2 separate regions of the Homo sapiens genome follow, and region 2 is linked to region 1. The links come from fine-mapping of genetic effects on gene expression. Tissue or cell type: gastroesophageal junction. Region 1 holds a variant in brackets; the other region holds the start of a gene. All regions are shown on one strand. Distances are between the middles of the regions.

Region 1 (8,087 bases):
GATGAACCAATTTTGGGAGAGTTCCAGAGATGCTGGAAGAGAGGCCAGTTGTCTCTGTACTGCAGAGATTTTTAAAATAGGCAGAATGCGCCAACTTGTGCTCTGTGGACAGGATGCTTTGGTCCGCAAGTTTTCCTGGACTCACTCTCATAGCGCCCGAGGTGCACGTTGGGGAAAGATCCTTTTTAGAGCCTGGGTACTGCTCTGCAGAAATGGAGAACTGCAACTCGATAGTGGATGGTGGGCAAGGGGCATCCCTGGACCCTGGGAAGGAGAGAAGGGGATGAGTTGGGTGTCCAGAAGACCCAGGCACCCCGGGCATCAGGCTCGGAGGGGAGATTGGGACGCTGGGGCCGGGGGTGGAGGGCAGCCAGGCAGAAGGAAGACCCTTCTCCAAAGCTCTCTTCCCACCTCTTTCCCAGCCTTAGCAACTTCTCTAGGTTTCAACTTGGACACAGAGGAGCTGACAGCCTTCCGTGTGGACAGCGCTGGGTTTGGAGACAGCGTGGTCCAGTATGCCAACTCCTGGTGAGGCCCAGGTGGTGCTGGCCTTTGGCTCCATCCATCCTCTCCCTGCTCAGGGCCCCATGCCCCCGGCCCTGCCCTGTTATTTGCAAACTCTCCTCTCTGTCTGGTGTAGCGACTGCCCTGGCTAATGAAGATTTGCCTTGAAGGCAGGCACGGTCTCACAGCTAACATTTACAGAGCAGTAAGTGCAGTGCCAGGCTCATCACAGGTGGATGCTGATTTAGTCCACACGACAGCCTGTGAGTAGGAATCAGTCGTGCAACAAACACTTATTTGTTTTTTCTTTCTTTTTTTCTATACATTTAAAAATATATAGAGACAGGGTCTCACTATGTTGCCTGGGTTGGTCTCAAACTCCTGGGCTCAAGCAATCCTCCCGCCTCAGCCTCCCAAAGTGCTGGGATTCCAGGTGTGAGCCACCACACCCAGACTCAACAAATATTTCTTGTCTCCATACGCCAGAGAATCCAACAGACAGAAATCCCTTCCACATGGACTTTAAATTATTAAAATCCATCTTGCAGATGAGGAAGCTGAGGCTCAGGGAGGGAACGCAAACTTGCCGGAGTGGCAGCTGTGCTGCAGCGTCCACACTCTTACCTAAAGTGTTCTTTGTCTCCTCGCAGGGTGGTGGTTGGAGCCCCCCAAAAGATAACAGCTGCCAACCAAACGGGTGGCCTCTACCAGTGTGGCTACAGCACTGGTGCCTGTGAGCCCATCGGCCTGCAGGGTGAGTCACCGCCCCTCCCGGGACCCAGGGCCGGGCTCCCAGGCTTCCCTGCTCCAGGGGCCCGTGGACTCACCGGAGTGTCACTTTCAGCTTCCACTGTGTCTGAGACCCTCACCCTCAGATATGCTTCCTGGCCCCTTAAGGCCTCCCCGCCCATCGCACTCCCGCAGCTCTGTCAAGACCCGACAGCTTCCTTCACCGTCAGACCTCCTTGTCTCCCAGGTGGAGGTGACCCCTGCCCAGCTCTTCCACAGCCTTCTCTGTACCCCCGAGAGTGACCATGCACATATCTGTCCCCACAGTGCCCCCGGAGGCCGTGAACATGTCCCTGGGCCTGTCCCTGGCGTCTACCACCAGCCCTTCCCAGCTGCTGGTGAGTGGCCCTGGGTCACAGGAGGCTTCTGAGGGAGGGAGGGAGGAGCCGGGGCCGCGGGGGGCTGGGAGTCTCCTGTAGGGTGGAGGTTCCGGAATGTGAGGGTGGGAGGAAGCAGGGGCAGCCCCCCAGCAGCCCGCTGTGTCCCCAGGCCTGCGGCCCCACCGTGCACCACGAGTGCGGGAGGAACATGTACCTCACCGGACTCTGCTTCCTCCTGGGCCCCACCCAGCTCACCCAGAGGCTCCCGGTGTCCAGGCAGGGTGAGTGTCGGGACCACCAAGGCTTTGAGGAGCTCACGCACATCCAATTGGGGGTGCGGTGGGCTAGAGACAGTCTTGCCAGAGTGGATCAGAAAGAAGGGATCTGGAAAAAGAGTTACCACGTGTTGCAGTGGTTCCTGACGCTGCTGCCCGCACATCCTGCCGATCGCCCGCACGCTGCCGGACCTTTCCTGTGACCTTAACCTCTCCAAGCCTCAGTTTCTTCATCTGTTGGATGGGGATAATAACACACCCAGCACTGAAAGCAACACAGGATGATTCATGGCCAGGGGTTAGCACAGCAGCTAGCACCAGGCGACAGCCCCATGAAGGCCAGCTGTTGTTATTTTTAGAGGAGAGGATCTATTTTCATCCAATGGGTCCTGGGATATGACCAATTGGTTTGTGCCGTAGTTTAGGAAAGGTCAGTGAAAGTGCAGTGTGAGCAACGTGTGTGTGTGTACATGTGTGTATATGTATGCATGTGTATACATGTGCACATGCACACATGTACATGCATGTGTGTGCATGTATGTGTGTGTGCGTGTGCACATGCAGGTTGAGACGCAGGGCCTGACTTCCCTGGTGCTGATGGGGAAGAAAGATAAGGAAGCAAAACAGTGGGCTTTGGCAGGCTGAGGCCTCCCCCTGGTTTCACATTTGCTCTCAAGCCTTTGGTGAGACTGACATCTGGCTGCAAATAGGGTGTGCCTTCCAGCACCTCCGTGGGTCCAGACTCCATCCACAGGGGCCTGGGCACCCATCAGAATGCCCAGGACACCTGTCTCTCCGGTGGAGGCCTCTGGGGCAGAGGGGATGCTTGAGAGGTCACATGGAAGGGGGTTTCCTCTCCAGGTGCTGGAAGATCGTCTCTTCTCAGGACAGATGCTAACTTCACACAGGAGGGGAGTGGGGGCCTGTATTTAAGCTGAGAACAGAACAGGCCCAGTGTGTGGCTGTTGCCTGGGATGATTTGTTTAAAATATTAACAATCAAGGCAAGAGGGTTGTTTGAGGCCTGGAGTTTGAGACCAGCCTGGGCAACATAGTGAGACCTCATCTCTACAAAAAATAAATATAAAATACAAAGTAGCTTGGCATGCTGTTACATACCTCTAGTCCTAACTACTGGGGAGGCTGAGGCAGGAGAATCGCTTGAGCCCAGGAGTTGGAGGCTGTAGGGAGCTTTGATCACACCACTGCACTCCAGCCTGGGTGACAGAGTGAGACTCCATCTCAATTAAAAAAAGAAATTTAACAAAACTACCATTCAGCACTGAGCAGTGAGGACAAACACTGGCTAGGGACTGGTGCCAGTTTGTGTCATTGCTGGATGGGGTGACATTGAGGGAGGAAGGAGGGGTGGGTCCAGGGAGGGGCACAGATATCCAGGGTGGTGGAGGGGTAGGCCCTCTGCTTCCTACCGTCTGAATTGGAGAAATCTTCCTGGTTTTTTTTTTTTTCTTTTTTTTTAGAGATAGTCTTACTCTGTCACTGAGGCTGGAGTGCAGTGGTACAATCACAGCTCACTGCAGCCTCCAACTCCTGGGCTCAAGTGATCCTCCCACCTCAGCCTCCAGAGTAGCTGGGACCACAGAGAAGAGCTACCATGCCCAGCTGATTTTTAACAATTTTTAGTAGATGTGAGGTCTAACTATGCTGTCCAGGCTGATCTTGAAATCCTGGGCTCAAGCAATTCTCCTGCCTAGGCCTCCCAAAGTGCTTGGATTATAGGAGTAAGTCACTGCACCCAGTCTGACCTTCACTCTTTTGTTGATGGGGCTGAGCAGCTTCATCACAGCCTTTTTCATTTTTTATTTTTTTGAGATGGAGCCTCACTCTGTTGCCAGGTTGGAGTGCTGTGGTGCGATCTCAGCTCACTGCAACCTCCACCTCCCAGGTTCAAGCAATTCTGCCTCTGCCTCCCAAGTAGTTGGGACCACAGGCGCGTGCCACCACACCCACCTAATTTTTGTATTTTTAGTAGAGACGGGGTTTCACCATGTGGGCCAGGATGGTCTCGATCTCCTGACCTCGTGATCCGCCCCCCTCGGCCTCCCAAAGTACTGGGATTACAGGCGTGAGCCACCACGCCTGGCTCATCACAGCCTCTTTAGGCAACTTTAAGAGAATGAAGGGCCTTGTTCCAGGCAAGGGGTTAGGGAAGCTCTGCCCCTGATGAGGAGAGGACCCAGGGTGTGGAGCCTGACTCCCATCGCCAGACTAGGGGCTTAGGGGAGGAAGGGTTTTGGGAGAGTGAGCTCTTGTGGCCAGGAGGCCACGGTCCTGGACTCCAGGAGTGTCACTTGGAGGACCGGTGCCACCTCCTTCCCCAGAGTGCCCAAGACAGGAGCAGGACATTGTGTTCCTGATCGATGGCTCAGGCAGCATCTCCTCCCGCAACTTTGCCACGATGATGAACTTCGTGAGAGCTGTGATAAGCCAGTTCCAGAGACCCAGCACCCAGGTGTGCCTTTGGGGGA[G/A]GGAGGCTGCTGGGGGTGGGTGCTTCGATCCTGGTGAAATGGCCTCAGCCCCAGCCCTGTGTGCTTCTCCCAGTTTTCCCTGATGCAGTTCTCCAACAAATTCCAAACACACTTCACTTTCGAGGAATTCAGGCGCAGCTCAAACCCCCTCAGCCTGTTGGCTTCTGTTCACCAGCTGCAAGGGTTTACATACACGGCCACCGCCATCCAAAATGTCGTGTGAGTCCTGATTTCTTCCAGGCACAGTCCCAAAGCACCCAGGTCTTCCCTTGGGCCTCATCTGTCTCCACGAGAAGGGGACAGGCAGGGACCAAAATCCAGCCCGTGATACCCTTGCCAAGCTGGGGCCTCTGGGTGGGACTGGGGCCTCCCAAAGGAAAAGGCATCTTCTAATTTTCACAAGGGCACCAGGGGCTAGTGTGGTTTGGTTCACAGGCCTCTAAGACCTCTCCTTTCCTGATAGGCACCGATTGTTCCATGCCTCATATGGGGCCCGTAGGGATGCCGCCAAAATTCTCATTGTCATCACTGATGGGAAGAAAGAAGGCGACAGCCTGGATTATAAGGATGTCATCCCCATGGCTGATGCAGCAGGCATCATCCGCTATGCAATTGGGGTAGGGCGTGGGATGGCTTCCCACTTCTCCCACGGCTTCCTCTCAGGGCAACTCCCCTTTCTGTGTATGTTCTTTTCTCTTTGAGACAGGGTCTTGCTCTATCACCCAGGAAGTGGTGCAATCCTAGCTCACTGCAGCCTTGAACTCCTGGGCTCCAGTGATCCTCCCACCCCAGCCTCCCCAGTAGCTGGGACCACAGGTGTGTGCCATCAAGCCTGGCTATTTTCTTTTTGGTTGAGATGGGGTCTTGCTATGTTGCCCAGGCTGGTCTCAAATTCCTGGCCTTAAGCAATTCTGCCACCTTGGTCTCCCAAAGCACAGGGATTACAGGCGTGAACCACCGCCAACAACATCCCTTTCAAGGATAGAAACACCAGCTCTCTCGGCTCTTACTGCCTTAAGGATGAAAACTCTGCCCCAGACTGGAGACCATGATCCTTTCTCCTAAACTCCCTGATGCTGTCCGGGCTTCGTGTTTCTCCTGTGTCCACCGGGTGTGATCATGTTGATCTTGTGGGGTTATTGGAAGATGTTGCACCCAGTGCACACAGGCACATTTGATTTATTATTTTTACTGAGTTGATCTTTTCTGGGGACAGGTTGGATTAGCTTTTCAAAACAGAAATTCTTGGAAAGAATTAAATGACATTGCATCGAAGCCCTCCCAGGAACACATATTTAAAGTGGAGGACTTTGATGCTCTGAAAGATATTCAAAACCAACTGAAGGAGAAGATCTTTGCCATTGAGGGTGAGTCTGAAGGGAGCTCTTCGCTTGGGGAATCCTCAGCCGTTAACACCTTTCCACTTAGAACCCGAGGCTCCGTGAAACAGGTAGACAGCGTCTCGGTTCTCCTGCTTTCCCGGGACCCCGATAGCCATGTCTGTCAGCTTGTCCCCACTGACGTCCCCCAGCACTGTCAGAGCTGCCCCAAAGTGGCCCCAGGGATGGCCCTGCTCCCCACAGAGAGTGATCTCACACCACCACCGGCTCCACTGCAGAACAAAAAGCAGTGCCAGGCCCAACCCAGGAGACCCTTCCACCCACACCGGGCCCTACCCAGCCCACATCCCACCAGCCACTCACTCCCCTGGGCAAGGGGCACACGGACACCTGGCCCCCTCGGGTCTGCTTGTAGACCTGTGGGGGGCCCTGATGAGGACCAGATCGGTGCTGCCATCGCTGTCCACATCCATGGAGCAGAGGGGGGCCCCGAAGTCGGAGCTGATCTGGAGGGCAGAGCCTGGTCCCTGTCACAGGCACCAGCTCTCCCTGTAGCCTCCAGTCTTAGCTTCTCCTAAAGCTGAAGTGTTCTTGGACCTGGCAAAGCCCGTCTCCCTCCCTGGCACTCAAGCGTCATGCCTTCCCCCAGGTACGGAGACCACAAGCAGTAGCTCCTTCGAATTGGAGATGGCACAGGAGGGCTTCAGCGCTGTGTTCACACCTGTGAGTGGGGCCCCTTAGGCCGATGATGTGCCGTGAGGGGAGGGGGAGCAGGGAAGGCCAGGGTGGGTGTCAGGTGGGTAAGAGGCGCAGGCGGAAGGCATATCTCTGGTACATGCTGTCTTCCTGCTCCGGCCTCTGCTCAGCCCTGGAATCCTTTTCTCCCAGGATGGCCCCGTTCTGGGGGCTGTGGGGAGCTTCACCTGGTCTGGAGGTGCCTTCCTGTACCCCCCAAATATGAGCCCTACCTTCATCAACATGTCTCAGGAGAATGTGGACATGAGGGACTCTTACCTGGGTGAGAAACAGCCAGGGGTTGGGGACAGGTGGGAGATGCACTGCCCAGGGTGGGGTCCAGGGTTCTGGGGAAGGGGTATGGGGGCTGTGCTGCCCAGGGTGGGGTCCAGGCTTCTGGGGAGGGAGGATGGGCACTGTGCTGCCCGGGGTGGGTTCCAGGTTCTGGGGAGGGGGGATGGGGGCTGTGCTGCCTGGGGTGGGGGTCCAGGGTTCTGGGGAGAGGGGATGGGCGCTGTGCTGCCTGGGGTGGGTTCCAGGGTTCTGGGGAGAGAGGATGGGGGCTGCATTGCCCAGGGTGGGGTCCAGGGTTCTGGGGAGGGGAGATGGTGCTGTGCTGCCCGGGGTGGGGGTCCAGGGTTCTGGGGAGGGGGAATGGGGGCCTTTGTGCTGAGGCCTGGGCCCCTCAGGTTACTCCACCGAGCTGGCCCTCTGGAAAGGGGTGCAGAGCCTGGTCCTGGGGGCCCCCCGCTACCAGCACACCGGGAAGGCTGTCATCTTCACCCAGGTGTCCAGGCAATGGAGGATGAAGGCCGAAGTCACGGGGACTCAGGTTGGGCGTGACAGGAGCCAGAGGGGAGGATGAGGGTAGGGGAGGTGGCTGGGGCAGAGGAGAGGATGGAGGGGCTTTGAGGGCCTTGGGGGAGGTCCTGGTACCTGGGGAGAGGTGGGACCTGGCCCACAGGGCTGCCTCTGGCAGGGACAGGCAGCATGACCCAGGCTCTGCCCTTCAGATCGGCTCCTACTTCGGGGCCTCCCTCTGCTCCGTGGACGTAGACAGCGACGGCAGCACCGACCTGGTCCTCATCGGGGCCCCCCATTACTACGAGCAGACCCGAGGGGGCCAGGTGTCTGTGTGTCCCTTGCCCAGGGGGGTGAGTGGCTGATGGGCCTGGGGTGGGTGGGGTCTGGTGTGGGTGGAGGGGTTGCCCGGGTTGGGCCTGGCACTGCTTTTTTTCTGCAGTGGAGAAGGTGGTGGTGTGATGCTGTTCTCTACGGGGAGCAGGGCCACCCCTGGGGTCGCTTTGGGGCGGCTCTGACAGTGCTGGGGGATGTGAATGGGGACAAGCTGACAGACGTGGTCATCGGGGCCCCAGGAGAGGAGGAGAACCGGGGTGCTGTCTACCTGTTTCACGGAGTCTTGGGACCCAGCATCAGCCCCTCCCACAGCCAGGTGAGGCCGTGTCCCATTTCTGTCACTAGAGCAGCCTGCTTCTTGCCTCTCCCACTCTGTCATACTGGAAAACTGTCCCTTTTTACCTTTTCCTACCTCCCTTGCCCAGCTCTGAGCACCTTGTAGCAGTGGCGTGGTCTCAGCTCACTGCAACCTCCGCCTCCCAGGTTCAAGCGATTCTCT
Region 2 (8,100 bases), 480 kb before region 1:
AAGTGACTTCACTTCTCTGTGCCTTGCTTTTCTCATCTGTCAAGTGGAAATAATAAGAGTACTTACCTCACTAAGTTATTGAAATGATTTTGTAAGATTATGCATGTAGTGCTCTGAGAATATTCACCTAGCTCAATGTTAGCTTTTTTTTTTGAGACTGAGTCTCACTCTGTCGCCCAGGCTGGAGTGCAGTGGTACGATCTTGGCTCACTGCAACCTTCACCTCCCGGGTTCCAGTGATTCTCCTGCCTCAGCCTCCTGAGTAGCTGGGACTACAGGCAGGCACCACCACACCTGGCTTATTTTTGCATTTTTAGTAGAGACAGGGTTTCACCATGTTGGCCAGGCTGGTCTTGAACTCCTGACCTCAGGTGATCTGCCTACCTTGGCCTCCCAAAGTGCTGGGATTACAGGTGTGAGCCATCGCACCCGGCCACTATTTTGTTTTATAGGGTCCAGAATTACTCAGATAATTGCTTGGATTTAGGGTTGAGATTCTCACCTAAGTTGAGTGAGACCAGATGGACCCTAATCATCCTGTCTGGAGGTGCTTAGCCTCAAGTTTGGGTCAAGTTGAATTGCACAGCTGTGAGAGAGGTGGACTGAGTTAAATCGGTGTTGAACAAGAGCATGGCAGGACCTGGTTGTTTTGCTTATCTTCTATATGCTATAATTTCAAAAATTAAGGTATAAAATTAAGCTCTCTCTGGAAAAGGATATTCGTGTTATTGGAATGGGTTCTGAATTTAATGGTCAGTTAAAGCCCACAGGGAAAGAATAAGATGAGGAATAGGGTCTGAGGGAGGAGGCAGAGTTCTGATGAAGATGATGGCAAGAGGTGGGAAAGTCCTTGGCCAGGAAGGGGAGAGAGGGAGTCATGGTGAATACCCTGCGGCTGTGCTCCAGGAAAGTGGTCAGTCCTGAGAGCAGGTGGCGGCCTGACATTCCAGAAACATGGGACCCTATATGCAGGTAATCCCAGCCAGCCTAGAGACTCTGGTGCCCACAGGTGGAATAGGGCAGAAGTCATGGAGTGTAAGGGACCCCTGTGGGCTTGGAAAGTGATGCCAGTAGCAACCAAGATGAACTAGAGATCAGACTCTCCTCACCACCAGCACGCACGTTCACACACACCCTCATTCTCCAGGCAGGCAGCACTTCCTGAACTGCGGTGTGCCGTTGAGAGAGGGTGAAAGCCCCAGTGGCAAATGAGATGGGATTTCTGTTTAGAGTCATAAATTGTTTCATAGAAATATTTGAATATTTGTTAGAAGAGGTACCCAAAACAACTCAGGCAGCCTGGTGCCCGCATGTTTTGGGTAGTGGCCAGAGTCCCCTCTCAAGCCTGCTAGTCCATTCCCCACCCCCTATCCTACTTCCAGACTTGGTAAGTAGGTAGTTTTGGCAATCAGACAGACTTGGTTAAGCCTAGCTTCTGTCACTAGCTGTGTGACACTGGACAAGTAATTGTACCTGACTTCTCTGAACCTGTTTCTTCATCGGTAAAATCATGCACTTCTTTACAGGAGTTGTCAGGAAAATGCAATGAAAGAATAAGGTGAGGGTGGTTTTCAAATGATGACCTGGAGAACCGTAAATCAGACAATCCAGTGTTTGCCAAACTTCATTCACATCCCATCTTCCCAACCTCTGACAAATTTGTGGACCACCTCTACTTCTGTTTACTTAATCTTGTTCTTTAAAAATTATCAACTCACGTTTTGATGGAACTAGGTGTATTCAAAAGGAAACTTTAACCACTGCCATAAATGAGAAATTATCATGTACCCAAGAGTGGTAAAAATAGATACAATAAAACCAAAACAATGCTGTTCAGTTCTAGCTGGCTATGATTATAGGCCAGGGCTCTGAGCTCAAGGAGTTGATTTTGTTAAAAACAACAACAAAAAGGTTATCTCAGTCAAAAAAGGCCACATAAAGCCCTAATATGAAATGTCCAAAATAATCAACTCTATAGAGACAGAAAGTAGATTTGCAGTAGTCTAGAGCTGTAGTGGGAGGAAGGCTTGGGAGTTACTGTTAATGGGTATGGTTTCTTTTAGGGGTAATGAAAATGTTCTAAAATTGACTGTGGTGATATTTGCAAAACTGTGAAGATACTAAGAATCATTGAACTGTACACTTTAAATGGGTGAGTTGTATGGTGTGTGAGTCATCTCTCTCAGTAAAGGTGTTATTTTAAAATACGTATATATGGGCCGGGTGTGATGGCTCAGACCTGTAATCCCAGCATTTGGGGAGGCTGGGGCAGGCAGATCACTTTTGAGCTCAGGAGTTCCAGACCAGCCTGGGCAACATAGCAAAACCCTGTCTCTACTAAAAATACAAAAATTACCCAGGCATGGTAGCAGCAGCCTGTAATCCCAGCTACTCGGGAGGCTGAGGCAGGAGAATCGCTTGAACCTGGGAGGCGGAGGTTGCAGTGAGCCGAGATCGAGTCCCTGCACTCCATCCTGGGCCACAGAGCTACACTGTCTCAAAAAAAAAAAAAATTGTACAGATATATATACACACACACACATATAGAAAAATTATATAATTTTTCCTCCTCTCTCTATATACATATATATATAGATATATGTATACACACACACACACACACACAGAGGAAGGTATAGGTGTCAAACCTTTTTTTTTTTTTTTGAGACAGATTCTTGCTCTGTGGCCCAGGCTAGAGTGCAGTGGTGCGATCTTGGCTCACTGCAACCTCTGCCTCCCGGGTTCAAGGGATTCTCCTGCCTCAGCCTCCCGAGTAGCTGGGATTACAGGTGTGTGGCACCACATCCGTCTAATTTTTGTATTTTTAGTAGAGACAGGGTTTCACCATGTTGGCCAGACTGGTCTTGAACTCCTGACCTCAAGTGATCTGCCCGACGTGGCCTCTTAAAGTGCTAGGATTACAGGCGTGAGCCACTGAGCCCAGCCTAAATTCAATTATTAAACTCCTTGAGTTAATTAAAGGGTAGCCAGGTGCGGTGGCTCATGCCTGTAATCCCAGCACTTTCAGAGGCCGAGGCAGGAGGATCGCTTGAGCCCAGGAGTTCCAGACCAGCCTGGACAACATAGCGAGATCCTGACTCTACAAAAAACAGAAAAATTAGCCGGGCGTGGTGGCGCGTGTTTGTAGTCCCAGACACTCCTGAGGTTGAGGTGGGAGGATCACCTGAGCCCTCGGGAGGTCGAAGCTGCAGTGAGCGGAGATCGCACCGCTGCACTCCAGCCTGGGGGACAGTGAGGCGGTCTCAAAACAAAACAAAAACAAAAGGGGAGGGCGGGGGGAAGACTTAAAGACCCCTGAGCCAGGGCCATTATTATTTAACTTGGTCGGGTCTCTGAACCATTCGGAGGAAGCTTGGGTTTCTATCCTTCCCGACTGAGCCACAGACCTGAGTCTTGACTCCGGATAAATCACCCCAGACTGTTTTTCTGTCTGTGACACGGGAACGGCAGCTTCTGCCTCGCGAGGTGGAGAGAGAATGAGAAGCGCCGTGTGTGGCGCGCCTGACACGGTCAGCTCGCGGGTGGAGGCCCGGAGCAGAACGCCCTCGGGCGCCCGCTCTTGCAGCCGCACTGGAGACCGGGAATGGCTCCGGCCACGCCTCTGCCGACTGCGGCAACGCGAGGGACAGCTGGTCTCCGGGGTTGCAGCGTAACGCCCTCCTTCCCGGCCTCATCTTTCCTGACTGCATAACGGGCATACAGTGGGTTCCATGGCGCAAGGGAGCTGAAGAAGCCGCCCGCCCCCAGCTCGCCCGGGATCCTCACGCCCCTATAACGCCCCGAGGGGCCACGATGCTGCCCACAGCCCAGATCGCGAGTGCGGACCCTGCGGGAGGGTCTGGCCTAGATGCGAGTTTCCCGCCGCAGACCAGGCGAGGCCACGCGACATATCCCCTACCCGCTTACTGCAGGCCGCAGACGGAGACAGTGCAGCCCTGCGCACTGCTGAGGTTGCCCGAGGTCTCAGCCTCGGCGGGTCGGGAACACGCGGCGCGCGCCCGCGCCCCAACCGGAAGTCCGCCACCGGCCGCTCTAGCACGCGCAGGGCTGCGTCTGTGGCCTTAACCCTTCCCAAGGCTGCGCCGCCGGCCTTTGTCTCCGCGGAGCGTCACAAAGGTTGGAAGGGTCGCGGGGCCTCTGGGTGCCGAGCTGCAGATGCCTCCACTGCGAGCACAGCCCTGAGACAAGGGCCCAGGCGCCCAGCGGGGCTGGTTTCACTCAGTCCAGCCGCACCTACCCGTGCCCTCACCAGATCTTAAGATACAGACATTAAAACCTCCACCGGGCCGCGGCACAGGACAGCAGTTTTACTTTCTGTTTTTGGCATTGCATTGCCTCCATTTCCTAGAGTGCACGTAATAAATACCGCTGGTGATTCCAAAATATAAAGGTTGAAAATATTTACTTTACAAAAATTTGGTTCCCATACTGCTTTTAAGGCCATCCTCTGCACTTGGTTCCCGCTGCTCCTGATGTGGTTGAAAGATGGATGACCCCAAAGACGAGGAAAAGATTATTGGCTCCATTTTTTAGATGCGGCAGCCAGCTAAGGTCTAGACAGGGGAAGGGACTTGCCCCAAATCACAGTTAGAGCAAATCAGTCTGAATCAGGAATAACTCCATTCCTATCCCGCATCCTGCCCTTTCACTACGCCACAGCTGCCTGGCTGCCTGGAGGAACAAAGGAGGGCCGGGCAAGAACGCCATTACCAACTGCAAATCCACAGGCAAATGCAAGAGGACAGAAAGTAAGTTCTTGGGCTCTGCCCTTGTGCCGTACCCGGAGGGGTTCTGGGGTCACCAGCCAGGTGCATCCCTGCCTTCACAGCCATGCACAGCGACACCCAGTTAACTAATGGGGGGGATTATGCCACTTGCTGGGTATGCCTGTGCCACCAGTGCACTCACTCTGTGCCTGGGGAAATAACCACGGATGAATCTGGGGATCCCCTGGGCCCACTGTGAAATGGACCTGAGCTAAAACTCCATTGATCACAGGACCTCAGGGATCTTTTGGGTCTCGAGAACAGAATTGGATGCTACAGGAGAAATGTAACCAGAAAAGGATTAGGATTTTGCCAGTAGAGAAAGGGAGATGTGCTTGCTTTCATTCATTTATCATTAATGAGCACCTACTGTATGCCAGGCACCACACTAGGCCCTAGGAAGACAGAGATTATGAGACAGATGTGGCCTTATTCTAGCAGGGGAAGTGAGATGAAGGAGGTGAGAAAGAGGAAGTATAGTGACTAACCAGGGACCTGACCTAGTTTGAAGGTCAGGGAACCTTGGAGGAGGTGAAATCAAACCCAAAGCCTGAGATAAGAGAGAGAAGGGGAGGGTGGAGGGAAGGAAAGGGCTTCACAGACAGAGGGAACGGGAGTGCTAACAGCCTGGCCAGCTTCCTTGTGGTAGAAGTTCTATGCATGAGTTGGAAGAAAGCTTGGGGAAAGGGGCAGGAGAGGTGGGCAGGGGCCAAATCCAGCAGGGGCTTTTCTACCATAAGGAACTTGGTGGGAGAACTCCATGGGCAAAAACAGGTGTGGAAGGGACCAAGAAGCCCATGTGGCTGGAGGGCAGGACATGAGATGAAGATGACTAGAGCAGGGAGTGAGGAGGTGGAGAAGGTGAGCAGAGGCCAAGGCTGGGAGGCCTGAAATGCCTGGCCGCAAAACTCAGCCATTAGCCTGGAGGCCATGCAAGTGAACAGCAAGGAGGAGAGTGGAACACCAGGGAGCGGTAGGGATTGCGGGGACTGAAGGGCAGAGACTCCGCCCCCAGGGCAGTCAGTGTTCTGCACCCCCTACCCCCCTACCCCACCAACCTCCGCCCCATGACCACTCCAGGAGGCAAACTCAGTATCTCAGAATATCTGCTTTCAAGGGTAGCTGGAGTCCAGATTTCTTTTTTTATTTTTGGTAGAGACAGGATCTTGCTCTGTCGCGCAGGTTGAAGGGTAGCAACACATAGCTCACTGTAGCCTCAACTCCTAGGCTCAAGCAGTCCTCCTGCCTCAGCCTCCCAAAGTGCTGGGGTTACAGTGTGAGGCACGTCACCCGGCCTGAGTCCAGATTTTTTTTTTTTTTTTGAGACGGAGTCTCGCTCTTTCACCAGGCCCGAGTGCAGTGGCACTATCTCGGCTCACTGCAAGCTCCGCCTCCTGGGTTCAGGCCATTCTCCTGCCTCAGCCTCCCGAGTAGCTGGGACTACAGGCACCCGCCACCGCGCCCAGCTAATTTGTTGTATTTTTAGTAGAGATGGGGTTTCACCGTGTTAGCCAGGATGGTCTCGATCTCCTGACCTCGTGATCCACCCGCCTCGGCCTCCCAAAGTGCTGGGATTACAGGCGTGAGCCACCGCGCCCAGCCTAGTCCAGATTTTTATATGAAATCACTTGATTTTAATGTTGCCAACATGTTCAACACCATGTAAGCCAAACAAATCACATTCACAGGCTCACAGCTCCAAGCTTTGCAGCATGTTAGCATCACCTGAGGAGCTTGTAAAAATCCCAGGGCCCTTGGCCGGGCGCAGTGGCTGATGCCTGTAATCTCAGCACTTTGGGAGGCCAAGGCGGGTGGATCACCTGAGGTCAGGAGTTCGAGACCAGCCTGGACAACATGGTGAAACCCCATCTCTACTAAAAATACAAAAATTAGCCGGGTGTGGTGGCAGGCACCTGTAATCCCAGCTACTTGGGAGGCTGAGGCACGAGAATGGCTTGAACCTGGGAGGCGGAGGTTGCAGTGACCCAAGATCATGCCACTGCACTGCAGCCTGGGCGATAGAGCTAAACTCAAGACTCAAAAAAACAAAACAAAACAAAAAATCCCAGGGCCCAGGTTGCACATGATACCAATGTAAAATGTCTGGGGTGGGGCCGGGTGTGGTGGCTCATGCCTGTAATCCCAGCACTTTGGGAGGCCGAGGGAGACGGATCACAAGGTCAGGAGATTGAGACCATCCTGGCTAACACGGTGAAACCCCGTCTCTACTAAAAATAAAAAAATTTAAAAAAATTAGCTGGGTGTGGTGGCACGCGCCTGTAGTCCCAGCTACTCGGGAGGCTGAGGCAGGAGAATCACTTGAACCCAGGAGGCAGAGGTTGCAATGAGCCGAGATCGTGCCACTGCACTCCAGCCTGGGCGACAGAGCGAGACTCTATTTCAAAAAAAACAAAAATGTCTGGGGTGGCTGGGCGTGGTGGCTCACGCCTGTAATCCTGGCACTCTGGGAGGCCGAGGTGGGTGGATCACGAGGTCAGGAGCTTGAGACCAGCCTGACCAACATGGTGAAACCCAGTCTCTACTAAAAATACAAAAATTAGCTGGGCGTGGTGGCACGCACCTGTAATCCCAGCTACTCAGGAGGCTGAGGCAGAAGAATCACTTGAACCCGGGAGGCAGAGGTTGCAGTGAGCTGAGATCGTGCCACTGCACTCCAGCCTGGGTGACAAAGCGAGACTCCGTCTCAAAAAAAAAAAAAAAAATGTCAAGGGTAGAAGGCAGCCATCAGAATATTTAAATGATTCCCCAGGTGATTCCAGTATGCACACTACCAGAGACTACGTGCTTTCAGTTGCCAGGCTCAGCCATGGGGAGCCATGGGAAGTTTTAGAACAGGAGAGGAGCCCAGTTTAGAGTTTAAGGAAAATCATTCTGTAGGAGGAACAGAATGTAATCTTGTGTGAAAAGGGTCCGGAAGCCCCAAGGGCAGTGGCAGGATCCTGCTAGGGTGATGGTGATCAGCCATCCCAGTTTGCTCAAGACTGGGGTGTCTCCTGGGACATGGAACCTGCAGTGCTAAAACCAAGAAAGTCCTGGGCAAACAGGGATGCTTGGTCATGCTAGATTCTCCTGATGTAGTTCTGTTTTCCCAGATTTTTGGGGAGACTGATGCCACAGACTTCGCATTCTAGAAATTCCTAAGAAAAGGCTGTCCATCTCCCTGTGGTGCATTCACCTGAGTCTCTGAGCCCTGGCAGGGCCCATCTCTTCTCCACCCAGCAGAGTGATCCTGGCCTATGGAATATAATTTAGCAGTAAAAAGGAACAAACTACTGATTCACACAATAATCCG

The links. PIP is the estimated chance that this variant, and not a neighbour inherited with it, causes the effect.
Region 2: MIR762HG starts here. The variant in region 1 is fine-mapped to the expression of MIR762HG in gastroesophageal junction (GTEx, PIP 0.98).

The regions. Positions count from the first base shown.
Region 1 is chr16:31,355,471-31,363,557 of GRCh38, forward strand. ITGAX (integrin subunit alpha X) reads left to right here. Exons shown (of 30, transcript NM_000887.5): 2 at 423-528; 3 at 1,155-1,258; 4 at 1,561-1,631; 5 at 1,783-1,894; 6 at 4,230-4,360; 7 at 4,450-4,595; 8 at 4,840-4,993; 9 at 5,593-5,743; 10 at 6,366-6,439; 11 at 6,605-6,734; 12 at 7,141-7,283; 13 at 7,465-7,605; 14 at 7,695-7,904. It also overlaps the pseudogene LOC100422479. Among named protein-coding and RNA genes, the nearest start is that of ITGAX, 4.3 kb to the left of the region's middle. The variant G/A (reference allele first, on the strand shown) is at 4,377.
Region 2 is chr16:30,871,350-30,879,449 of GRCh38, forward strand. MIR762HG (MIR762 host gene) reads left to right here and starts at 4,111. Exons shown (of 3, transcript NR_110942.1): 1 at 4,111-4,137; 2 at 4,681-4,769. It overlaps MIR4519 (microRNA 4519), which reads right to left and starts at 3,974; the gene lies at 3,917-3,974. It also overlaps a transcript of BCL7C not described here. RefSeq lists enhancers at 2,639-3,394, 3,395-4,149, 3,684-3,943, 4,150-4,904, 4,214-4,423 and 1 more and a silencer at 4,824-4,883.